Linked DNA regions of Homo sapiens. The protein of the gene in region 1 purifies or fractionates together with the protein of each later gene. This does not show direct contact. Each region holds a gene or a part of one and is shown in the gene's direction. Other genes may lie near its edges.

Evidence for each region.
Region 2: the proteins of LIPG (region 1) and MAN2B2 purify together in Homo sapiens (affinity purification with mass spectrometry; one large-scale study listed by BioGRID and IntAct). This does not show direct contact.
Region 3: the proteins of LIPG (region 1) and DNAJC13 purify together in Homo sapiens (affinity purification with mass spectrometry; 2 studies listed by BioGRID and IntAct, with this or other methods). This does not show direct contact.
Region 4: the proteins of LIPG (region 1) and CLSTN1 purify together in Homo sapiens (affinity purification with mass spectrometry; one large-scale study listed by BioGRID and IntAct). This does not show direct contact.
Region 5: the proteins of LIPG (region 1) and MELTF purify together in Homo sapiens (affinity purification with mass spectrometry; one large-scale study listed by BioGRID and IntAct). This does not show direct contact.
Region 6: the proteins of LIPG (region 1) and LOXL2 purify together in Homo sapiens (affinity purification with mass spectrometry; one large-scale study listed by BioGRID and IntAct). This does not show direct contact.
Region 7: the proteins of LIPG (region 1) and SUMF1 purify together in Homo sapiens (affinity purification with mass spectrometry; one large-scale study listed by BioGRID and IntAct). This does not show direct contact.

Annotation. Positions count from the first base shown.
Region 1 is NC_000018.10:49,572,057-49,575,556, forward strand, and holds part of LIPG (endothelial lipase isoform 1 precursor), read left to right. Parts: intron 1-3,200; coding exon of another isoform or gene 3,201-3,277; exon of another isoform or gene 3,278-3,306; intron 3,307-3,312; coding exon 3,313-3,500. UniProt on the Homo sapiens protein: Exerts both phospholipase and triglyceride lipase activities. More active as a phospholipase than a triglyceride lipase.
Region 2 is NC_000004.12:6,578,189-6,581,688, forward strand, and holds part of MAN2B2 (epididymis-specific alpha-mannosidase isoform 1 precursor), read left to right. Parts: intron 1-204; coding exon 205-310; intron 311-3,500.
Region 3 is NC_000003.12:132,424,002-132,427,501, forward strand, and holds part of DNAJC13 (dnaJ homolog subfamily C member 13), read left to right. Parts: intron 1-3,500.
Region 4 is NC_000001.11:9,747,466-9,750,965, reverse strand, and holds part of CLSTN1 (calsyntenin-1 isoform 1 precursor), read left to right. Parts: intron 1-1,052; coding exon 1,053-1,202; intron 1,203-1,319; coding exon 1,320-1,505; intron 1,506-3,500. UniProt on the Homo sapiens protein: Postsynaptic adhesion molecule that binds to presynaptic neurexins to mediate both excitatory and inhibitory synapse formation.
Region 5 is NC_000003.12:197,003,529-197,005,817, reverse strand, and holds part of MELTF (melanotransferrin isoform 1 preproprotein), read left to right. Parts: intron 1-1,073; exon of another isoform or gene 1,074-1,324; intron 1,325-1,458; exon of another isoform or gene 1,459-1,637; coding exon of another isoform or gene 1,638-1,718; coding exon 1,719-1,917; exon of another isoform or gene 1,918-2,216; intron 2,217-2,289. UniProt on the Homo sapiens protein: Involved in iron cellular uptake. Seems to be internalized and then recycled back to the cell membrane. Binds a single atom of iron per subunit. Could also bind zinc.
Region 6 is NC_000008.11:23,397,621-23,401,120, reverse strand, and holds part of LOXL2 (lysyl oxidase homolog 2 precursor), read left to right. Parts: intron 1-3,500. UniProt on the Homo sapiens protein: Mediates the post-translational oxidative deamination of lysine residues on target proteins leading to the formation of deaminated lysine (allysine).
Region 7 is NC_000003.12:4,457,270-4,460,769, reverse strand, and holds part of SUMF1 (formylglycine-generating enzyme isoform 1 precursor), read left to right. Parts: intron 1-3,500.

The DNA of each region.
Region 1 (3,500 bases):
CGCCTGTAACCCCAGCACTTTGGGAGGCCGAGGTGGGTGGATCACCTGAGGTCAGGAGTTCAAGACCAGCCTGGCCAACATGATGAAACCCCATGTCTACTAAAAGTACAAAAATTAGCCGGGCATGGTGGTGGGTGCCTGTAATCCCAGCTACTCAGGAGGCTGAAGCAGGAGAATCTCTTGAACCCAGGATGCGGAGGTTGCAGTGGGCTGAGATTGCGCCACTGCACTCCAGGCTGGGTGACAAGAGTGAGACTCTGTCTCAAAAATAAAAAATAAAAAATAAAAAACAAACAAACAAAAAACACCTCATATATGACAGCTACTCTATGCTATCTCTGAACCACATAGCAACCCTGAACATTCTACGGAGGGGGAAACTAGGACTCAGTGATTAAGTAAAGGGCCCAATATCCTGGGCCCTATAAGTAGCAGAGCTGGGACTCAAACCCATGCTGTCAGATTCCAGATCCCATGCACCTCACTGCTGTGCCATGCTGCCTCTCTTCTGTGGACAGAGATAAAGTAGCCAGGCATGGTAGTGCATGCCTGTAATCCTAGCTACTCGGGATGCTGAGGTGGGAGAATCACCTGAGCCCAGGAGGTGGAGGTTGCAGAGAGCCGAGACTGGGCCACTGCACTCCAGCCTGGGCAACAGAGTGAGACCCTGTCTTAAAAAAAAAAAAAAAAAAAAAAGTAGCCGTTGAACTACAGCAGGCCCTGCCCTGCCGGGCCAGAATGCACAGCCCTGGAAGTTTTACATGTGTGCATGTGTGTGTGCTCCATTTGCTGGACAAAGCAACTTTGGAGGAGTCTATGACTGAATGGAAGAAGCGGCGGAGGTTCTCTATCTCCTCTTTATTTAAGGAGGCAGTTCTCCCTGTCATTCATCCCTAGTTAAAAAAGTTAAATGTGCCACTGTACCCCTGAATCTGTGGGCCACAGATATGTGTCAGGGACAGTCAGAGCAGGGCAGGCAGGCTCTGGCTGGGTAGGTGAAGGCCCAGCCTTGCCTGCCAGCCAGCCTGTGAAACCCCATCAGCTGCCTGCATTCCTCCAGCACAGCCTGGTTTCCATGGCACTGACCGTCTGGTGGGGACCTTTGTTCACACCAAGTAAAGAGCCTCTCTCTTGTATTGATTGCAAAGCAGAATGTTGCTCTCTTTCTCTTTCCTCCAGGGGACATGGTGAGAGGCAGGGAGAGGCCGCTGTGTCAGTACTGCGGTCCTTGCGGCCTCTGAAATGGGTTGTCGTGGGCTGTTCTGGGAGCACACTGCTTTTGTGCCATCTTTCTTTTGGGTCCTGGGCTAGGGATAAACTCTCAAGCAGCCTGGGCTCCCTTTCTGTCTTGGTTGCACATAAAGTTATCTAAATTTGGCTGGGTGCAGTGGCTTATGCCTGTAATCCCAGCTACTCAGGAGGCTGAGGCAGGAGAATCGCTTGAACCCAGGAGGCGGAGGCTGCAGTGAGCCGAGATCGTGCCACTGCACTCCAGCCTGGGTGACAGAGCAAGATTCCAACTCAAAAAAAAAAAAAGAAAAAAAAGTTATCTAAATTTTTGGAAACTATTTAGCGTTTCAGCCTCTACCAGTTCTCATATGAGTAATGAGTTCTGCAAGTTGACCGTCCACTCTAGACGGTAGCTCTGCCTCTTGTTTATCCTGAAACTACCATCTCAAGTCTCCTGATAGGCTCCCTGGTTCTAATGTGCTGTGGTCTGGTGAACACGGTCGTTAACCATGTCCTCCTTTCAGGACTCTTGTTGGTCACATCTCCTCCCAGCCTTGGTGTTTCGAGGCCAGGTTTTCTCAGCCTAGGCAATATTGACATTTGGGGCCAGGTAAGGTTTTGGTGTGGGGTGTGTGTGTGTTGGGATTGACTTGTGCACTGTAGAATGTTTAGCTGTATTCCTGGCCTGGCCCTGCTAGATGCTAGCAACTCTCTCCATCAGAATGGGGGCAATAAAAAGGTCTCCAGGAATTTCCAGATGTCCCCTGGGGGGCAAAGCCACTTGTAGTGGTGAACCACTGTTCCAGCGGCCCTTCCTTCCTGGCACATTTCATCCCTTAACTTTCTCCAGGTCCTTCCTGTGTGTCTGTGGGGCAAAGAGCTGTTCTGGTTGGGATAAATCTGGTTCCCATAATCACTTGGGCTTGGTAATAGTAGCTAATACTGACAGGCACTCAGTCTCTTAAGATCTCACGTGGACTTTGAATTAAGGTATAAATTCAGGTTCCATTTTATAAATGATAATGAAACACAGGGAAGTTTTTCAATATTTGGCCCACAGAATACCTACTTTTAGGATCATCCGGGGAATAAATATCTATTTCTATGTGCCATAATTCATATCTACCCACTAGGAGTTCAGGCACTTGGGAATCTGCATTTTATACTTTGCAAGTTCTCTTTTGGAATGGTTTTACATTAATGCAGTTTTCAAATCAAAAGATGGTGAAAGTCTCTCTTACTGCTCTGCTACCTGTCCGTTTCCCTTACCCACTCTCTCCCCCAACGCACACGCATACAGGTAACTAGTTGCTTGTGTGTCCTTCCAGATTTTTTTGTAGCTGTATGGTGGAATTTAAATTTAACAAGCTCCCAATTTCAAATATGAGAACCAGTGCTCTCAACAGTGCTGCTTGCCTGCTCAACACAAAATGTTTGGAGGCGGAAAGGTTTTCTCACGGTGGCTGCAAAATAGAGGAATTCTGGAGGCCTGATGTATGGATTCTCAGTGTATTGGGTGTCCTCTTCTCTCTCACCATTCCACCCCTGGGCCTGATTAAAGGAAGAAGAATAAATTCAGATACAAATAGCTCCGTTTGGGGAGACTGGATTCTCCTTCCAGAAGGATGTAGGCAGCTTAGTTATTCTGTAAAAATTCTGCTACAATTAAGGACATGAAAGATGCTCAGTGGCAGAATGAATGGGACAAATGGCTTAGTTTCAGGCAGTCTGAGTTCTTTCTAGAACTGCTTCAGTTTTAACAGGAGCAGTTCCTTGGAGCTGTGTGGCAGCGAAACTTGTGGCTAGTTGACGGGGTTTGGCTGAGGTGACGGGATACATGAAGGCTTCAGAAGAAAGTATAAATTCCATAACAGTAGGATTTAATTTCTGCAATGATGTCTTGGGGTCAACTGCATATGGAAATGGGTTTCTTATTTTCTTCCATGCTTTCCATGTCTTGATTCTCCCAGCTGGTCTCAGAAGTCATCTTCATTCTGCACACTCAGACTTAACTTGTAATCAGGACTCACTGACCAGGTGCACCTGACACCACAGCTGTTTTGGGGCCTCCTTCTGCTGCAGGTTTGGATCCTGCCGGGCCCATGTTTGAAGGGGCCGACATCCACAAGAGGCTCTCTCCGGACGATGCAGATTTTGTGGATGTCCTCCACACCTACACGCGTTCCTTCGGCTTGAGCATTGGTATTCAGATGCCTGTGGGCCACATTGACATCTACCCCAATGGGGGTGACTTCCAGCCAGGCTGTGGA
Region 2 (3,500 bases), on another chromosome or scaffold:
TCAAATACCACCTGAGGGCTGCATGATTTCTAGGTGGTGGGAACACAGTGTGGACCAGGACAGACAGTGCCCTGCTTTTATAGAGTAAGCAAGGGTGGGGAGTTTTATGCAGGGCGTGTGTGGCGCTGTAGGTGTGTTCCCCACAGACCCAGCCATGCTCAGGAGCCGTAACTGGCTTTTTTCTCTCTGCCTGCCCATGTCAAGGTCCGCCAGCTCCTGGAGGAAGGACGCCTGGAATTTGTCATCGGAGGCCAGGTCATGCATGACGAGGCTGTGACGCACCTTGATGACCAGATCCTGCAGCTCACAGGTTTGGCCACCCTACCCTGCACCCAGGGTCCCTCAGGACCTCCAGTGGGGCTGGGACATGGTATCAGAACCCCCAGGTTCTGAGCTCTGTCTGCCCCTCTTAGTGGGGTCGGGGACCTTAACCAGTGAAAGCAGTGATTTGCTAGTGCCATATTCATGCCTCACCAAGGAAGTTGAATGTAGGGGTTAAGAGCATGGATGCTAGAGTCAGATGGTCTCAATATATCCTGGCTCTGCCAATTCCCTCCTCTGTGACCCTGGAAAGGAATGTAACTTCAGTTTCCTCATAGATAAAATGAGTTTGATGGTAATACCTACCTCAAAGGGTTGTTGTGAGTATTAAATGGGATAATTCAAATAAAGCACTTTAGTAGGATGTGGGTTCCCTAGTAAATGCTCAGTAAGTGTTTGCTGCCTTCCATCACAATTACCACCTTCAGCACCATAATGACCATGACTACTACCATCACCACCACCACCACGATGACCATCACTACCACTACCATCACCACCACCACCACCATCACCATCACCACTACCACCATCACCACCATCACCACCACCATCACCATCACCACCACCACCACCATCACCATCACCAGCACCACCACCATCACCATCACCACTACCACCACCACCACCATCACCACCACCATCACCATCACCACCACCACCACCACCATCACCATCACCAGCACCACCACCATCACCATCACCACCACCACCACCACCATCACCACCACCACCCTTCACCACCATCACCACCACCACCATCACCACCACCATCACCATCACCACCACCATCACCACCACCACCACCATCACCACCACCACCACCACCACCATCACCATCACCACCACCATCACCATCACCACCACCACCACTACCCTTCACCATCACCACCACCACCATCACCATCACCACCACCATCACCACCACCCTTCACCATCACCACCACCCTTCACCACCACAATGACCATCACTACCACTACCATCACCACCACCATCATAACTACCATCACCACCACCCTTCACCACTGCTATGACCACCACTACCACTACCATTACTACCACTACCATCACCACCATCACCACTACCACCATCATCTTCACCACTACAATGACCATTACTACCACTACCATCACCACCACCCCCTAAACACTATCACCATGATCACCACCCATCACTGTCGCCACCACCATCACCACATCCATTACTACCATCCCCTCCACAATCATCATCACCACCACCATGACCATCTCCCTCACCATTGTGTCCACTGTCCTCAGCACCATCACCCACAGTGCCGTGGGGCACTCTACTCACCATTTACCAAATGCCTTTCACAGTGACACCCCAGCCAATCCTAATGGCGGGCTGATGGTGAGGCATGGTGATGCCCAGTTTCATTTTGCAGATGTAGAAACTGAGATCCAAAGAAATGCAGTAACTCTCTCCAGGGTAGATGGCCAGGACTTGAGTCCAGGCCTAGGGACTGAAGCTCCGAGTCCACAGTCACTCCACTACAGCATGGGCCCTGATTTCCCCATTTGTAAAACATCCAGGCAGAGAGCAATGTTGTCAAAGGATGTTTTTGGCACTCTCCCTTTTCTCATCTGTAATCTGGAGTGTTCCCCTGTCTCAGTTTCTTACTGCCTTACATCTGGACTTTGCTCAAACCCTAGACTTGCCCTTCCATGAGAAGGAGGCGTGATGGACACAGCCCTACAGACAGAGCTCCTCCTGTGGCCAGGAGCTCAGCCCCTGCTTGTCCCCCTGCATCCCCACAGGCCCAGAGGTAACAGGGGAGGACAGCAAGGCTCAGAGGGAGCACCTTGCCCTCAGCCGCCTGCTGTGGCTCCCTGACTCCAGAGCCCCTGCTCTTTCACTCCCCCATGTGAAGTGTGGGCAAGGGATCTATCCCAACAGACTTCCCCCACACCCCTTCACAAGCCCACTGCCAGGGAATGTGTGACACTGTAGGCGTGTCCCCCACCTGCCTCCTGCCCCGTGCCAGCGAGGAGGCTCTGGGGCTGTTTCTCACCTGTGCCATTTCACGCAGTGCTCCCCCTCATTCTCCACCCTCCTCCTCAAGATGCAGCTGAGAAGCCCCTCCCGCAGGAAATCTCTGAGTCTCTGCAGTTCTGTGTCACCTCCCCACTTAACCGCTGAACCTCAAGATGCCCCTGGCAGGGACCCCCATCTGACTCATCTCAGCACCCAGCATAGGGTCTGGCCCAGACCACTGCTTACTGGGCAAGGCTGGGCAAGGGGTGGGCGCTGAACTGCCCTGCCCTGAGGGTACCCACCACTGGGGTACCTCGCCTCTGGCCTCAGCCCACCGTGCCTAAGTGCTGATACCCCAGCGCTGACCCTGCAGGTCTGACCTGGCAACTGGAAGCCTCAGGGAAGCTGAGGCTGTGTCGCTCTGGGGCAGGAAGAGCCTCCAGAGACACAAGAGACAGCGGCTGTTGTGAGGCTCCATTTCCAAACCTGTCCAAGCTCATGGGGCCCTCAGGGTACAGACATGTGGGTTTCTTTCATGATAACCACCTTGTTCTAGGTACAAGATGTACACGTATTTTTTTTTCAGTCCTCAGGGCAATCTGGTAGATGGGTAATCTTACAAATGCTTATTTGTAGAGAAGTTTGAGGCTCAAATGCTATCCAAATGTGCCCACCACCAGCTAAGTGATGGGACCCAGATCCAACCCTAGCCCGGCCGAGTCAGGAAGGTTACTTGTGGCTGAGCCCCTCTCACTGGCGGCTGAGCCAAGCCCTTTCCCATCTGCTATCTCTTAGTTGCCTCAGAACAGCCTGGTAGCAAGTGGTACTGTTCACAGCCCCATTTGACAGATGAGGAAACTGAGGTACTGAGAGATGCGGGATTTATATATATGCAGTAGGTAACAGAACTGGCGCTCAAGCCCATGTGTGCCTGGCCTGGGCTCTTTCCTTAACTTGTAGTCCCTAGGGCGGGGGCAGAGTGTGTGTATCAGACCACCCATCTCAGATGTCCCAGGCATTCTGGCTGTGAATTATGTCCACATTGGGCTGGTTTTCTCAGATATGTTGGGGTAAGAGGGGCTGGATCACCCCTCACTGCTTCCGGGCCCTTTATCCTCCATCTCACCTTGGTGGAGCCCCTGCCTCGAGGCAGGCCCTGGACAGCAAAGGAAGACAGGAGCA
Region 3 (3,500 bases), on another chromosome or scaffold:
AAGACCTTACAGAAATAGTATAGTTTGTTCTTGCATAAGCCAGGTTATGCTTCAAAGATAAAATGAAATAGAAATTAGGTCTATAAAGTTACAATAATGTGTATAAACTAAAAATATGTAAATGATCAATAGCAATGATTTCAAAGCATTGCTTAAGTGAACATGTTTCTGGAAAGAAAGCTTTCAGGTGAGTATTTTAAGGCATTTTTAAGCTTTGGAAAGGGAAGGGTCATAGTAATACATCTTTCACAGAAAATTTGAATTTTTTTAACAACAGATAAACTTCTGTTTTGTCAGAAATACAAATTATTCCCCTCAGATGAAATGAGCATACATGTGATAGAAATAGAAGAGACAGGTCTCTTTTCAATACTTGATTTATACTGTTGAATAGAAGAGGTCAAAAAAAGTAACTGCTATGGTAAGTATGCTTGTCCCCTCCTCCCATTAAGTGTTTCTTCAGATTTAGGGGTTGCTTTTGAATTTTTCTTGCCCTGTATTTCATTAATATATACTCAGTTTGTAATAGAAAGGAATCAAGTTTTTAAAAACAATGGTGGAGATCTCATATTATTTCAGCTACCCTATGGTAGTGAAACTAGTTAAAAGTTGATTATGATGTGACAGTACAATCACTTCACTTTAAAATATCTGGGCAATTATTTGAAGATATGATTATCAGATGAAATTTGATATTACCGCTGGCTTTTTTTATTCTTCAACGACATCTATCTCTGGAGGTATCGGGTTCTTCAGTAAGTTAAGGAAGGCTAAGATGGTAGGTACTAAAATCTTTGTGATGTATTTATGGTTTGTTTTAAGATTCCTGTTGGTATCATACATATTACACATACTGATTTGTTGTTCATTTAGAAGAAAATGCTTTTACCTGTACTTGAGTCATATATTAAAATGAAGCTAAAATTTAAAAATAGGGTTAAAGTTCATATGGCAGTTTCCCCCATACACAGCACATTCTATCTAAACAGTTTAGTTGTAGCTATTTAATCTGGGTAAAAATGAACATTCTGTTAGCCATTCATATTTTTTACCATTTGTTTGAAACCAAACTAATCTAGTGCTATGATTTACTCAGATTTTGAATCCAGTTACAAACAAACCTAGATCCTCAAGAAGCCAATATAAGATATTCTATCTATTACTCTTATTAGTTATTTTTTCAAAGGGTTAGTCTTTCCATGGTTCTCCTTACTACCCCTCCCTTTTTGGTAAGATATAGCTGTAGGAAGTATTACGTTCATAAATTAGTTCCTATGATGTGAATGTCTGCTACATTTTAAGTGTGGTTTTGGAATGTAGCATTGTTTCTGTTGTAGGAGAGTTTGATCAGAAAAGGCAAACTCCACAATTTTCACCCAACATATTGTAAACATTTTCACCTACAGCCAGGTTGAAAGAACTTTACATTAGATACCCACATGCCCACCTAAAGGTTTTTACATTAACATTTTACTGTACTTGCTTTATCACAGATCTGTCCATCTTTCCATCAATCCATCTTATTTTTTATGCATTTCAAAACAAATTCACATTTTTAGTTATTGAGGGCAGAGCTAATGAAAGTAAGTTCCGTTCTTGCATTTTACAGACTCAAAATGGGAAAATCAGTAGCTTACCTGTTCTCTGCAAGTTGTCATATTTGTGTAAAAATTACTTCCAGTTGATGATGCTAAATACGTGCTTTAAACAGGTGACTAGCCTGATTAATGCCAATCCTTCTTTCACTAGTGTATTTTTTTCTAAGTGTATTCATTCATCCCTAGTTAAATGAGTGTTCTGCTTGTGTTTTTGCTTAACACAAGCCATGTGTATATACTTAATTTTGCTGTGTGTGTAAATTTTTTTGCTTATAGCTTGACCGTAATTGGCTTGAGTGTCTGTGGTGTTGAGTCCCTTCATCTTGCTTTTGTTCTTAGTGTCAACTTGATGTAGGCTTCTTCTCACTGGACTCCCAAATCCTGTGGTTTTCTGTCAAAATTATGTGTCTTCTAAAAGATCATTCTCATTTTAACCATAAATGATCTTAAATGGTTTGCCAGTATTACTGCCAGTAATAAATTAGAGAATGCAAGAATATTGTGTTGTTCGAAAGCATGATGCAGTAGTATTCATTGAGAGAGGTGAATCTAGCCAAAATGCCTGTGTTGCCCTGAATTTGACTTTTTAACCCATAGGACAGTTCTATAAAAAGAACAAACAGAAGTTTCTTTGGTGGTGTAATTTAGGATATAGCATGAAAACAAGTGAAGCTGACTCGCAAAAATTGGAGATGCTTTCAATGCAATTTAATTACAAAAGGCATGTAAATTTGATTTTTCCTCATCAGAAAGAATCATGGGTCTTTGAGAATTTGAAATATGGAACACAATTGCAGGAATGAAGGAGATGAAATTTAAGTGACGTTAGTTTGAGCAGATAAATTCCTGCTATTTCGAATAGCCTCTAAACAACTGGCAGAATGGCAAATGCTAGTGATACAGCTGCTACCAAGATCTCATTCAAGATCCCATTTAACTGTTTACATTTTTTAGTTGGACAGTTTGTGGTTGTTGATAGCATGTGCTTATATTTGACTGTTACTGATATTACCTGCTTGATACTTGAGCTTCTGATACTAGAAATTTTACAGATTTTTTTCATCATAAATAGTGGAAATCAATGGTTGCTTAAGAGTTTTTGCCTATAAGTGATGATTTTTTTGAATCACTTTTAGAGCTTATTAATGTACAGAGGAAATATTGACTGCAGATTAAATTTATTTTGTGAAGTTTTTTTTTTCTTGAAAGTTTCTCAAGCCATAGTTAATTTGTAGCCATCAAACATAAATTTAAAAATATTAGGTTGGATACATGTAAGGAAACAGTTCTAACAACTGAAATTTCAAATACCTAAGTGGGGAATATTAAAAATGTAGTAAATAAGATTGACTTGTAATAGTATTTTGTAGGAATAAAGTTGAAATAAAAGACAAGCTTAAGTGTTGGGTTATAGTTGACAAGATGATTTTTAAAAATTTCATCTATCCTGATTATCTTGGTGTTTATATATACATATGTGTGTGTGTGTGTGTGTGTGTGTGTGCACGTGTGTGTGTGTGTATATATATATATATTTTTTTTTTTTTTTTGAGACAGGGTCTGACTCTGTCTCCCAGGCTCGAGTGCAGTGGCAAGATGAGGGCTCGCTCACTGCAGCCTCAGCCTCCCAGGCTCAAGTGGTCCTCTGACCTCAGCCCCCCAAGTAGCTGGGACTATAGGCCTGTGCCATGACACCCAGCTAATTTTTTGTATTTTTAGTAGAGACAGGGTTTTGCCATGTTGCCTGGGCTGGTCTTGAACTCCTGGACTCAAGCGATCTGCCTGCATTGGCCTCCCAAAGTGCTGGGACTACAGGCGTGAGCCATCGCACCCGGCAATATTTTTTTCTTTTTAAAAACGTTTTATGGGAAACATAAATTGTAACAATAAAATAATAATGAC
Region 4 (3,500 bases), on another chromosome or scaffold:
AGCCTCTCGAGTAGCTGGGATTACAGGTGCCCACCACCACGCCCAGCTAATTTTTTGTTGTTGTTGTTTGTATTTTTAGTAGAGATAGGGTTTCACCATGTTGGCCAGACTGGTCTTGAACTCCTGACCTCAGGTGATCCGCCCACCTTGGCCTCCCAAAGTGCTGGGATTACATGTGTGAGCCACCGCGCCTGGCCATGTTCTCCATTAAGTTAGAATCTCCTGTGACATCTTTTTTTTTTTTTTTTTTGTTTGAGGGAAGGTCTTGCTCTGTCGCCCAGGCTGGAATGTAGTGGTGCAGTCACTGCTCACTGTAACCTCGAACTCCTGGGCTCACGGGATCCTCCCGCCACAGCCTCGCTAGTAGCTGGGACTGCAGGCACACACCTGTAGTCCCAGCTATTTGGGAGGCTGAAGTGGGAGAATCGCTTGAACCCAGGAGGCAGAGGTTGCAGTGAGCCGAGATCAGGCCACTGCACTCCAGCCTGGGCAAGAGAACGAGACCCTGTTCCAAAAAGAAAAAAAAAGATAATACAGTGTTTCCATTGTTAATCAATGCACGGTCTAGAATCTTTGATGGAATTATGGACATTGCAAACACTTTCCAGAGATCTATACTCACCACGTTCAAAAAGCAGGCTTCTGTTCTAAGCAGGTGGGGGTAGGAAATCTCTCTTTCTTTTAATATAGTAAATGTTTGATCAGCGATCTTATATTTAATATTTGAGGTACTTGAATTATTATTATTTTTTAATCCTCTGAATGTATGTAAACAGTTAAATCTTAATGTAAAGCCCAATGTAACACTGTGAGAGTAAGTGGAGACTGAGCTGTGTAGCTCCGTCTCTTCTGTTGAAACTCTTCAGGATGGATTTAGTGCGTGTTAGGGCTCAGGGAGGACAGGTTGAGGGTTAAGCATCCCAAGCATATGTTTATTTCTGGCTGAGTATTTACAGGGCTTAAAGCCTATGCATTTTGTCTTTCCGCCTAGGACAACAAAAGTAAAACCAGCATGGGTTTTGGCTCTCACTGTTGTTTTTGCCCTCTGTAAGGTTATATAAAAAACACAGAGAAATTAAACTACGGGAAAGAACATCAATATAAGCTGACCGTCACTGCCTATGACTGTGGGAAGAAAAGAGCCACAGAAGATGTTTTGGTGAAGATCAGCATTAAGCCCACCTGCACCCCTGGGTGGCAAGGTGAGCTTCATTCTCTCCCCTGCGCTCACATCTGCTCTTAAAACTGATGTATGCGGCAGCAACCTAGAGTGTGTGTTTTCCTTCTCTCTTCCCCTGCTGACTTGTGGACCAACACAGGATGGAACAACAGGATTGAGTATGAGCCGGGCACCGGCGCGTTGGCCGTCTTTCCAAATATCCACCTGGAGACATGTGACGAGCCAGTCGCCTCAGTACAGGCCACAGTGGAGCTAGAAACCAGCCACATAGGGAAAGGCTGCGACCGAGACACCTACTCAGAGAAGTCCCTCCACCGGCTCTGTGGTAAGGAGACCAGGCGTTCTTGCATCCGGCTGGCTTTGGTGAAGGTGGGAGGGACCTTTACAACTGGAAATACTTGTGTGTGTTGTGTTCATAATTATAAACTGTGACAGAGAATCTGCATTTCTGAAGTGAACTTTGCTGCCTTGCTGGCTAGTTTTCATACTGGATGGGCTTCGGGGGTGGGGCAGGGGGTGGACATCAACTCCTAAACGTCTATTCAACATGTTGTGTATATGTGCATTTTAAGAACCACTGGTGGCCAGATGTGGTGGCTTATACCTGTAATTCCAGCACTTTAGGAGGCCGAGGTGGGAAGATCACTTGAGCCCAGGAGTTTGAGACCAGCCTGGGCAACACAGCGATACCCCATCTCTACAAAAAATTGAAAAATTAACTGGGGATGGTGGCATGGACCTGTAGTTCCAGTTACTTGGGAGGCTGAGCGGGAGGATCACCTGAGCCCGGGAGGTTGAGGCTGCAGTGAGCCGTGATGGCACCATTGCACTCCACCCTGGGCAATAGAGTGAGACCCTGTTTTAAAAAAAGAACCACTGATTTGAAGGAAGTATTTCTCCAGCATACTCTGAGAATCATCCAAAAAGGGCTTCTATAGGAGTACATGGAGTGAGTTTTACATGAAATGAGATGTTTACTTACGAATTGAAGACAAAGGCCAGGGCATGGGGGCTCATGCCTATAATCTTACCACTTTGGGAGGCCGAGGTGGGCAGATCACCTGAGGTCAGGAGTTCGAGACCAGCCTGACCAACATGGAGAAAACCCTGTCTCTACAAAAAAAACAAAAACTAGCCGGGCATGGCGGTGCACGCCTGTAGTCCCAACTACTTGGGGGGCTGAGGGAGGAGGATCGCTTGAGCCCAGGAGGTGGACGTTGCAGTGAGCCAAGATCACGCCGCTGCATTCCAGCCTGGATGACAGAGTGAGAACCTGTCTCAAAAAGAACTGAAGGAAAAATATAGGTAATACAATAGCTTTTGACAAACATGAAGTAGAAAATCAGAACTAAAGATAGCCACATCTAACTTAGAATCTCAATAGATTTTCTATATCACAATATTGTGTGGAGAAATTGAGAGACAGAATTACTGGGAAACCCACCAGAAGGCTAGGTCTCTCTTTACTGTCAGCTGCGGATATTTTTCTGGTTTATCTAAATGAAGAAGAGGTGAGGTATGGATGGCTGTCATGGAAGATGTTGAGGGAAGAACATTTAGTTGACTGGTGATAAAATCCCACTAAATGAAGCAGCGTCTTCATAAATTGGAAGGGTCTTTTGTGTTTCAAAAAGCTTTTGTGAAACAGCTTTTCAGGGAGCATTTTCTTAAACTGATGAGTCTTTTCACTAGCCTGATAACAACCATGAGATTTAGGTTACTGGTTTTCTTTTTTTTTTTTTTAGACAGAGTCTCACTCTGTCACCCAGGCTGGAGTGCAGTGGCGCCATCTCGGCTCACTGCAAGCTCCGCCTCCTGGGTTCACACCATTCTCCCGCCTCAGCCTCCCGAGTAGCTGGGACTACAGGCACCTGCCACCATGCCCGGCTAATTTTTTTGTATTTTTAGTAGAAACGGGGTTTCACCGTGTTAGCCAGGATGGTCTCGATCTCCTGACCTCGTGATCCGCCCACCTCGGCCTCCCAAAGTGCTGATTGCAGGCATGAGCCACCGCGCCCGGCCACTGGTTTATAATTGAAAATTATCCAGATCACTTGAGGTCAGGGGTCTAAGACCAGCCTGATCAACATGATGAAACCCCCGCTCTACTAAAAATAAAAAATTAGCCAGGCGTGGTGCGAGGTGCCTATACTCCCAGCTACTTGGGAGGCTGAGGCAGGAGAATTGCTTGAACCCAGGAGGCTGCAGTGAGCCAAGAGTGTGCCACTACTCTCCAGCCTAGGTGACAAAGCTAGACTTTGTCTTAGAAAAAAAACAATAAATAAGAAGAAAATTATCATGTGGTAAATAAACCAAAGTA
Region 5 (2,289 bases), on another chromosome or scaffold:
CCTCTTAAGGATGGAGACTACCCCAGACAGGCTCCCACCAGGGCCCTGAAGCTGTTCTTGTCAAGGTCACAGTGACCCATGTTGCTAAACCCAGTGGCCATTTCTCAGTCTTCATTTTACTTGACCTCTCAGTGGCACTGGCCACAGCTCTCCCTCCTCCTGGAAACACCTTCCCCTGCAGATGCCCAGGTCCTCAGCCCTGCCTGGCTGTCCTCTCACTCTCTGGCCACTCCTCAGTCTTCTCTGCTGATTTCCTCCCCATCTCCCTGACCTGTTAGCCCTAGGATTCAGTTCTCAGCCCTCTTCCCTGTCTACAGCTTACCCTTGATCTCATCCAATCCCATGTCATCAAATACCATCTATATACAGATGGCTTCTAAATTTACATCTTCAGACATCAGTCCCAAACTTGCATATTTAACTACATACTTGACATTTTGACTTGTGTTTCTAACAGTCATCTCAAATGGATCAAGTCCAAAGTTGGACCCCCGTCCCTCCTTCAGTCTTCCCCACTTCAATTAAGAGCAACTTTAGCTTTTCCATTTCCTCGGGAGTCATTTTTGACTCCGGTCTTCCTCTCGTGCTCTACAGCCAATCTATCAGCAGATCCCATTGGTTGTGCTTTCAAAATATACCTAGAATTTAAACCCAGGTTGTCTCACAATGGAGCCACTGGTTTCTAACCACTCCCCCTCCCCCGACTTATGCTGAAATTGCCTTCTCCACACCCACCAGCACCACAGAACTGCAGAGCTGGCTGGCTCGCCAGGCCTGTTCCTAAACTTTGACATTGTGAACTGACGCATGTTCCTTCCTGTCATCTTCCCCACAGAACCCCTCTATCCCAGGAGTGCTTTACTCTGGGTCCCTGGGCTTCCCTAGGGGGTTGCTAAGTCCTCTGAAGTAATGTGGGAGAAGAATCCTGGGTGGATGTGCATTTTTCTGGGGAGAAGGCTGACAGCTTTCATCAGATCTTCAGGAGGATCTGCGAGTCCCTCCAAAAAGACTGAGAGCCACCTGACTCCTTCGTTCCTCCTTGATCAGTACTTAACACTTTACATAGACATTCATGCATGTTCTCCAGATGTCCTTTATTTATATTCGTATTCATAAGTTCTCATACTACTTCTGGTCTTTTTAGTAGCTCTTTTAGGGCTGTAGCCACAGAACGGTCATTCTAGTGATTCTGAGCAGGGTGGAGAGGAGTGCAGCATCCCTGGGCGGGTGGGTCAGTGAAGACACGCCCAGCTCACCTGATATTCTGTGACTGGTTGCAGAACACAAGTCCCTCTCGAAATTGTTTAGGTTTGTGGGGAGATATCTGTAAGACAGAGTGAGAAAGCCTTATGGAAAAGGCCAAGAAGTGCTCAGCAGGCCTAGCAGAACGCTCAGGAATCCCACCCACACCATCCCTCATTTCTGGGTCTTTCTTCCTGGACATCTCAGGCCTCAGACCTGCATCCAGGAGCTGGAGCACCGCAGTGCTTCTGAACGCCTCTTCCAGTGGCACCTGCGGGCCTAGTGTCCCCACACCCGCTTGGGTGACAGAGGCCAATCAGTTGTCAAGCTTATGACTTCCAATCAGAGTGGTGGGGCCCTGAAATGACTTGCTCTTTGGGTCACTGTATGTAAAGCAATTTGCAGCTAGCGGCACTGGGCGGGTGACCCTGCCTGAGCCCAGTGAGGAGCAGGTCGTCTGCCTGCGGTGCTTCCAGGACCTGTTTGGAGACGACCACAATAAGAACGGGTTCAAAATGTTCGACTCCTCCAACTATCATGGCCAAGACCTGCTTTTCAAGGATGCCACCGTCCGGGCGGTGCCTGTCGGAGAGAAAACCACCTACCGCGGCTGGCTGGGGCTGGACTACGTGGCGGCGCTGGAAGGGATGTCGTCTCAGCAGTGCTCGGGCGCAGGTAGGACAGGCCCGCCCTGCCGCCTCCCCTGGTGCTATTCAGACCCCTTCACCCCAGAACCCTGAGGGAGCGGGGGGCGCTGCGGGTCCGGGGAGGCGGGTGGAGGCCCGTTCGCAGCAGTCCAGGTGGGGTGTCCCGGGAGGATTTTGGCCAGGAGGCTGCGGGCCGGGAGGGCGGGAGCCCGGCGGGTCTCCCAGACGGACCTGGGTAATGAGTGTGAACGCTCAAAACGGCGGCGCGGGGAGGATCTGGGGCCACGGCAGAGACATGCGTGTGCTGCCTTTCTGGAAAGAGCGCATCTGGAAGGGCAGCAGGGGAAAGGAGCACAAAGAGGGAGGCTGCGGCGAGTTCGGTCCCGAAAGATGCCCCCAC
Region 6 (3,500 bases), on another chromosome or scaffold:
GGTGACCCAGGGAGCCAGGGTCTAACCCAGCCTCCTCATGGCTGGGCTTCGGTGGTTCTGGTTCTCCATGTTACTCGTGGACTCTCAGCTGCTCTCTGAAGAGTTCTTCTTGGCTCAGGCTTCATCCTGGGCTTATCACTTCCTATACACCTGCTGTCAGAAATCCCTGTGTAAATATTAGTAATTGGACATTTGGTGCTTGAGATAAATGAACTGCAAAATCAGGAAGCCAGGGTTTGTTTCCTAGCTCATTGCAAAACTGTAAGGGCTCAGAGCTGCCCTCTCTGAACTAGAGAGCAGTGTACTTCCTCATTATTTGACTCCAAGGTGTAAAAATAGGATGAGTGAAATGACTGTTGCTGGGATTCCTGGAAGAAACAAAGGCCCCAGAAAGAAATCTAGTAGAGGACAATCTCCCCTCTCTGAGCATCACCTGAGTACTCTGACAGCTGGTACCTTCATGCTGAAGCCCTCAAATCCTATGACAGAGAAGTAGGGGTATATAGGCTTCCCATTGAAGCCCTTAGTTTATGCATGACTTTATTCTGCATTTGACCAATGAAGATATGCAACACCTGATATGGCTTGGCTGTGTCCCCACCCAAATCTCATTGTGAATTGTAGCTGTCATAATTCCCATGTGTTGTAGGAAAGACCCGATGAAAGGTAATTGAATCATGGGGGTAGATCTTTCCCCTGAGAAGTAAATCTCGTGAGATATGGTTTTATAAATGGGAGTCCCCTGTACATGCTCTCTTGCCTGCCACCATGTAAGATGTTCCTTTGCTCTTCCTTTGTCTTCTGCCATGATTGTGAGGCCTCCCCAGCCATGTGGCATTGTGAGTCCATTAAACCTCCTCCCTTTACAAAGTACCCAGTCTCGGGTATGTCTTTATTAGCAGCATGAGAACAGACTAATACAACACCAGAGCCTTCTGCTTTTAGCATTTTCATTACTTAAGTTTATTTGCTTTTGAAATGGAGCGAAGAAGAAATTTCTCCACCTTGTTAATGAGACTCATAAGTTGGAATTCTCCTTTCTTGGCAGATCATGTGGGAAAAAGGAATCTCTTGGCACAGGACTCCTAGATGTTCTGCTGTTACGCTTGTTGCTTTGAAACAGGGAATGAACAGACCTTCCATAAAATAGCCAGTTAGAGGCAGAGAAACTGGTCAACCCGATTCCATCCAACGGGAGGAACTCCGAAGTGGCAAGACATTAACCTTAAATCACCCTGCCTTCTGACGGCCATAGATTCTTTTTCCTTAGCTAATAGGCTGTCTCCATGGAGGAAGAATTTCTAGGTGATTCCACACCAGCAGCTGCAGTTGCACAAGCATGACTGCTTCCTTCATTTTAAAGTTTGGGGAGCCTTAGGAGGTGTTTTAGTCCATTTTCTGTTGCTTATAACAGAATACCTGAAACTCGGTAGTTTATTAAACAAAAGGAATTTAGTTCTTACAGTTATGGAGACTGAGAAGTCCAAAGTCCAGGAGCTGTACCTGGTGAGGGCCTTCTTGCTGGTGGGGACTTGGCAGTATCCCAAGGTGATGCAGGACCATCGTGAGGGGGCTGAGCATGATAACATGCTAGCTCAAGTCTCTTTTCCTCTTGTAAAGCCACCAATTCCCTTCCCATGATAACCGATTCATCTATTAATTGGTGAATGGATTCATCAGTTTATGAGGGCAGAGCACTCATGATTCAACCACTTCTTAAAGGCCCCACCTCTCAAAACTGCCACATTGGGGATTAAATTTCAACATGAATTTTTTGGAGGGACACCTATTCAAACCACAGCAGGAGATATGATTTCCCATTCCCAGGGGCTGCCTGGCTTTAAAAGAGCAGCTTGTTACTGTCATCGTCCATTTCCCCCTGGAGAAAGGCTTTTGTGGTCGGTCTGCATGGCAGTCACACCCTGGGTGGTCCATGAGGCCTCAGATGAAGTGGCCCGAGGCCACTCTGCTCTAGGCCCACAGACAAGGCGGGAATAGCAGTTGCAGGCTAGAAAAGGAAGGGCCAACCAGACATTCACAGAGATGCAACCAGAGCAACACACAGCTGAGTCTCTTAAGTCTTCAGTCCTGTGTAAGTTGAAGCAAGACATCAGAAATCTCTCACCTGAGTAATTCCACACATGCACCCACTGCTGTCCAATGCAGTGCTTGCTCAGCAGGGAGCACCTCTTGGCCAAGCGTATTGGCAGCCCTTCTACCGTGACCAGCGTCAGGGACGTCTCTAGGCGCCTTTTCAGAATAGCTGGCAACATAGGGAGACCCAGTCTCTACCAAAAAAAAAAAATTAGCCAGGCATGGTATAGTCCCAGCTACTCAGGAGGCTGAGGCAGGAAGATTGCTTGAGCCCAGGAGGTCAAGGCTATAGTGCATTCCAGCCTGGGTGACAGAGTGAGACCCTGTCTCAAAAACAAAGAAAGAATAGCCACTTGGTTGATGATGATAAAGGATGCTGGGGACTGTGTAGTTCAGACTTCTGTCCAGAGTTTTAACAAATCTTTTGCACTTTCTGTGGCAGAAATACTATTACCAGGCAAGTAGTGTGTGTGGCAGATGAGAACAAGAACTAACTCAGCAGATGCTGAGGTTGTGGTTAGGAACACAGTTAGTAGGTTCTTCTTGTCCAGGGCTTTTGATCCCTTCACTTGGGATACCTTAAGTATTATATTTAATTATAGTCTTCTAAGCAAAGAGTGATGTTTTCTTTTTAGTTTTTTCATTCCTACGATCCACGTCAGACAAGCAGACACAGCTGGCCCTCTGGATGTCCTGTGGCAACAGACATATCCTCCTTGATGTGTTGCCAACAAAGTGCTGAGGGTATCTTCTGCAAAAATGATGCCACTTGCCTATAAAACATACACTTACGACAAGATAACTTATGGTGATGACTTGTGAACAACTTAATTTGCAGTTTCTTTATAATATCTTTCTGGAACTTGGATCCATGAACTTCTTTTGCCCCCAGGCTTGTCCTGATATACCACTGGGGTACCAAGGTAAACACAGTATAGCTCTTCAGAGTGCCTGCATGACTCGAAGATGTAGTGAGAAAGATACTTTTCTAAATATCTTTCTAAAACAATTACAAATATAAAATTGAGTAAAGCACATTTCTTTTTTTTTTTTTTTTTTTTTTTTTGAGACAGAGTCTTACTCTGTCACCCAGGCTGGAGTGCAGTGGTGCAATCTCAGCTCACGGCAACCTCCACCTTCCAGGTTCAAGAGATTCTCCTGCCTCAGCCTCCCGAGTAGCTGGGATTACAGGCATGCACCACTATGCCCACGGAAAAGCATATTTCTTTCTTTTTTTTTTTTTTTTTTGAGACAGAGTCTTGCTCTGTTGCCCAGGCTGGGAGTGCAGTGGCGCGATCTCGGCTCACTGCAAGCTCCGCCTCCCAAGTTCACGCCATTCTCCTGCCTCAGCCTCCTGAGTAGCTGGGACCACAGGCGCCCGCCACCATACCCAGCTAATGTTTTCT
Region 7 (3,500 bases), on another chromosome or scaffold:
GGGAGAGTTGCTTGAGACCAGACGATCAAGGGTGCTGTGAGCTGTGATCACGCCTCTGCACTCCAGCGTGGGGTGACAGAGTGGGACTCCATCTCTTAAAAAATATATATATATATATATGTATATATATACACACACACACTCTCACACACACACACACACACACACACTGTGTGTGTGAGGGCACATGAGCTAGAGGGATATGCAGGCAGGAAAGGCCTCCTGGAGGAGCTGATCCTTGAACCATGACAATATTTACCAAGAGACAAAGTGGTTTATGGAAATGCGGGTGAAAGACAGGGCAAGAGAGAGTGTGAGAGATGAGCTCTGATGTTTATATATGTTATTCTGAAAGGCGATAGGAATTCCTGACAGTTTTAAGTAGGAAAGTAGTATGGTCAGATTGACACTTTATTTTTTAAAACAGGTAGTATATTTACGTGGTTTAAAAATTTAAAAACATATAGAAGAGTATATAGTGAACAATTTCTCATTTACCCAGTAACTTTCCCCTCAGACAACCACTGCATGCATTTCTTATATATTTCCTCAGAGCTATGTTCTGCAAATATAAGTAAATACAAAAATAGTGTACCTGTATCCCTCAACCTACTTTCACGCTAATGACAGCATACCATACTTAGCATTTGTGCACCTTGCTTTGTTCTTGTAGCTCATCATGGTGAGATCTTTCCATATCAATATATCAAAAGCATCCTTTTTTATCCCCCTCTTCTTTTTTCTTTCCTATGGCTGCTTAATTTTCCATTTTATTGAAGGCCCACAATTTACTTAAAATGAGCCTGCTATTGATGGACATTTAGATTGTTTCCAGCCCTTTTCAGTTGGAAAATTGCATTGGGTACAGTAGACTAACATTTTCAGAAGGATTAGTAGGGGCTTAAATATTTGTTGAATGAATTATTGAATGGAAGATAGATGACTTGGAAGCAGGTGGGGATGTGAAAGGAGACTGAAGACAGGAACACCAATTACAAGGGTTCTGCAGTTATCTGGGGGTAGAAAAGAGGGAGAGATTAGAGAGATACATATTTAGGAAATCTAGTGAGACTAGGTGGCCTGTGTAATATTGGGAGTAGGGGATGTGAGTAGTCAAGGTTGATTTCTTGGGATAGTAGTAATACATTAGACAAATAAAAACACATTTATTACTAATTTATCATAAATGAAAACAGCACCATTTTTATTGGGAAGTACACGCATAGAATCAAAGCAGCCACCAGCAAGGAAAGCCAGTAGAAATGGAAAGTAGAATCAATGACTGTGGATTCCTAATTTCTGTTTCTTCTGATGTTATTTTTCTAATGCTTCTGCCCGTATTGCTAAGTGACTCTCTTTTTTTCCAACTAGTCCATCTCTCCTTGACTTCTTTTTTTTCCCCTTTCTAATTTGAGCCCTTGTTTTTTAAAATTTTATTTTTAATTGACAAATAATTTTATAATAATTTGTGGGGTACAACGTGATGTTTTGATATATGTTTACATTGTGGAATGAGTAAATCAAGCTAATTAACAAATCCATCAGCTCACATACTTATATTTTTTGTGTGGTGGAAACATTTAAAATCTATTTTTTAATAATTGCGAAATATATAATGCATTACTTATTATAGTCACCACTCTGTGCAATACATCACTAAAGCTAATTTCTTCTATCTAACTGAAATTTTGTACCGTCTGATCAACATCTTTCCTTTCCCCATCTTCCCCTCTCCCCCAGCCTCTGATAACCACCATTCTACTTCAATTAGTTCAACTTTTTTAGATTTCACATATGAGTGAGATCATCAAGGCATTTGTCATTTTGTGCTTGGCTCATTTCACATAGCATACTGTCCACTAGGTTCATCCATGCTGTCATAAATGACAGAGTTTTCTTCTTTTTTTTTCTCTTGAGACGGAATCTAGCTCTGTTGCCCAGGCTGGAGTGCAGTGGCTCCATCTCGGCTCGCTGCAAGCTCCGCCTCCCAGGTTCACGCCATTCTCCTGCCTCAGCCTCCGGAGTAGCTGGGACTACAGGCGCCCGCCACCAACGCCTGGCTAAGTTTTTGTATTTTTAGTGGAGACGGGATTTCACCGTGTTAGCCAGGATGGTCTTGATCTCCTGACCTCATGATCCCCTTGCCTCGGCCTCCCAAAGTGCTGGGATTACAGGCGTGAGCCTCCGCACCTGGCCGAGTTTTCTTTTTAAGGCTAAAAAGTATTCTGACATTTATATATATATGTATATATAAACATTTTCTTTATCCATTTATATGATAAGGGACATCTAGGTTGCTTCTGTATCTTAGCTATTGTGAATAATGCTGCCATGAATTTGGGAGTGTAGATATTTTTTCAGCATACTGGTTTTATTTCCTTTGGCCATATACCCAGAAGTGGGATAGCTGGATCATATGGTAATTCTGTTTGCAGATTTCTGAGGAACCTCCATATTGTTTTCCATAATCACTGTATTAATTTACATTCTCACCAACTGCAGTAGAGTTCCTTTTTCTCTACATCTTCTCCAACACTTGTTATCTTTCATCTTTTTGATGATAGCTATTCTAACAGGTGTGAGGAGATAGCCCATTGTGGTTTTAATTTGCATTTTCCTGGTAATTAGTTGTGAAGAGCATTTTTTCTTATATCTGTTGGCCATTTGTATGTCTTTTGAGCAATGTCTATTCGGGTCCTTTGCCCATTTTTAAATTGAGTTCTTTGTTTTCTTGCTATTGATTTGAATTCCTTATATATTTTGAATATTAACTCCATATAAGATGCATGGTTTGCAAAGATTTTCACTCATTCTGGGATATCTCTTCACTCTGTTGTTTCCTTTGCCATACAGAAGCCTTTTGGTTTGATACAATCCTATTTGTTTATTTTTGCTTTTGTTGCCTGTGCTTTTGGGGTCAAGTCCAAGAAATCTTTGCCAGGCCTGTGTCATGGAGCTTCTTTTCCCAATGTTTTCTTCTAGTAGTTTTACAGTTTCAGACTGTACATTTAAGTCTTTAATACAGTTTGAGTTGATTTTTGTATATGCTGTGAGATAAGGGTCTAATTTCATTCTTCTACATGTGGATATTCAGTTTTCCTAATACCGTTTATTGAAAGATTGTCCTTTCTCCATTGTGTGTTCTTGGTGCCTTTGTTGAAAATCAGATGATGGTAAATGCATGAGTTTATTTCTGGACTCTCTATCCTGTTCCATTGGTTTTTGTGTTAGCTTTTATGCCAGTACCATGCCATTTGATTAGGTTTGTAGTATATTTTGAAGTCAGATAGTGTGGTACTCCACCTTTGTTCTTTTTGCTCAAAATTGCTTTCGCTCTTTGGGGTCTTTTGTTGTGCTGTACAAATTTTAGGATTTTTTTTTCTATTTCCTTGAAAAATGACATTAGAATTTTGATAGGAATTACATTTGATAGGAATTACATTTGATAGAAATTACATTGAATCCTGGCCTGGGATTAATTTCTTAATATCTTTTTCAGA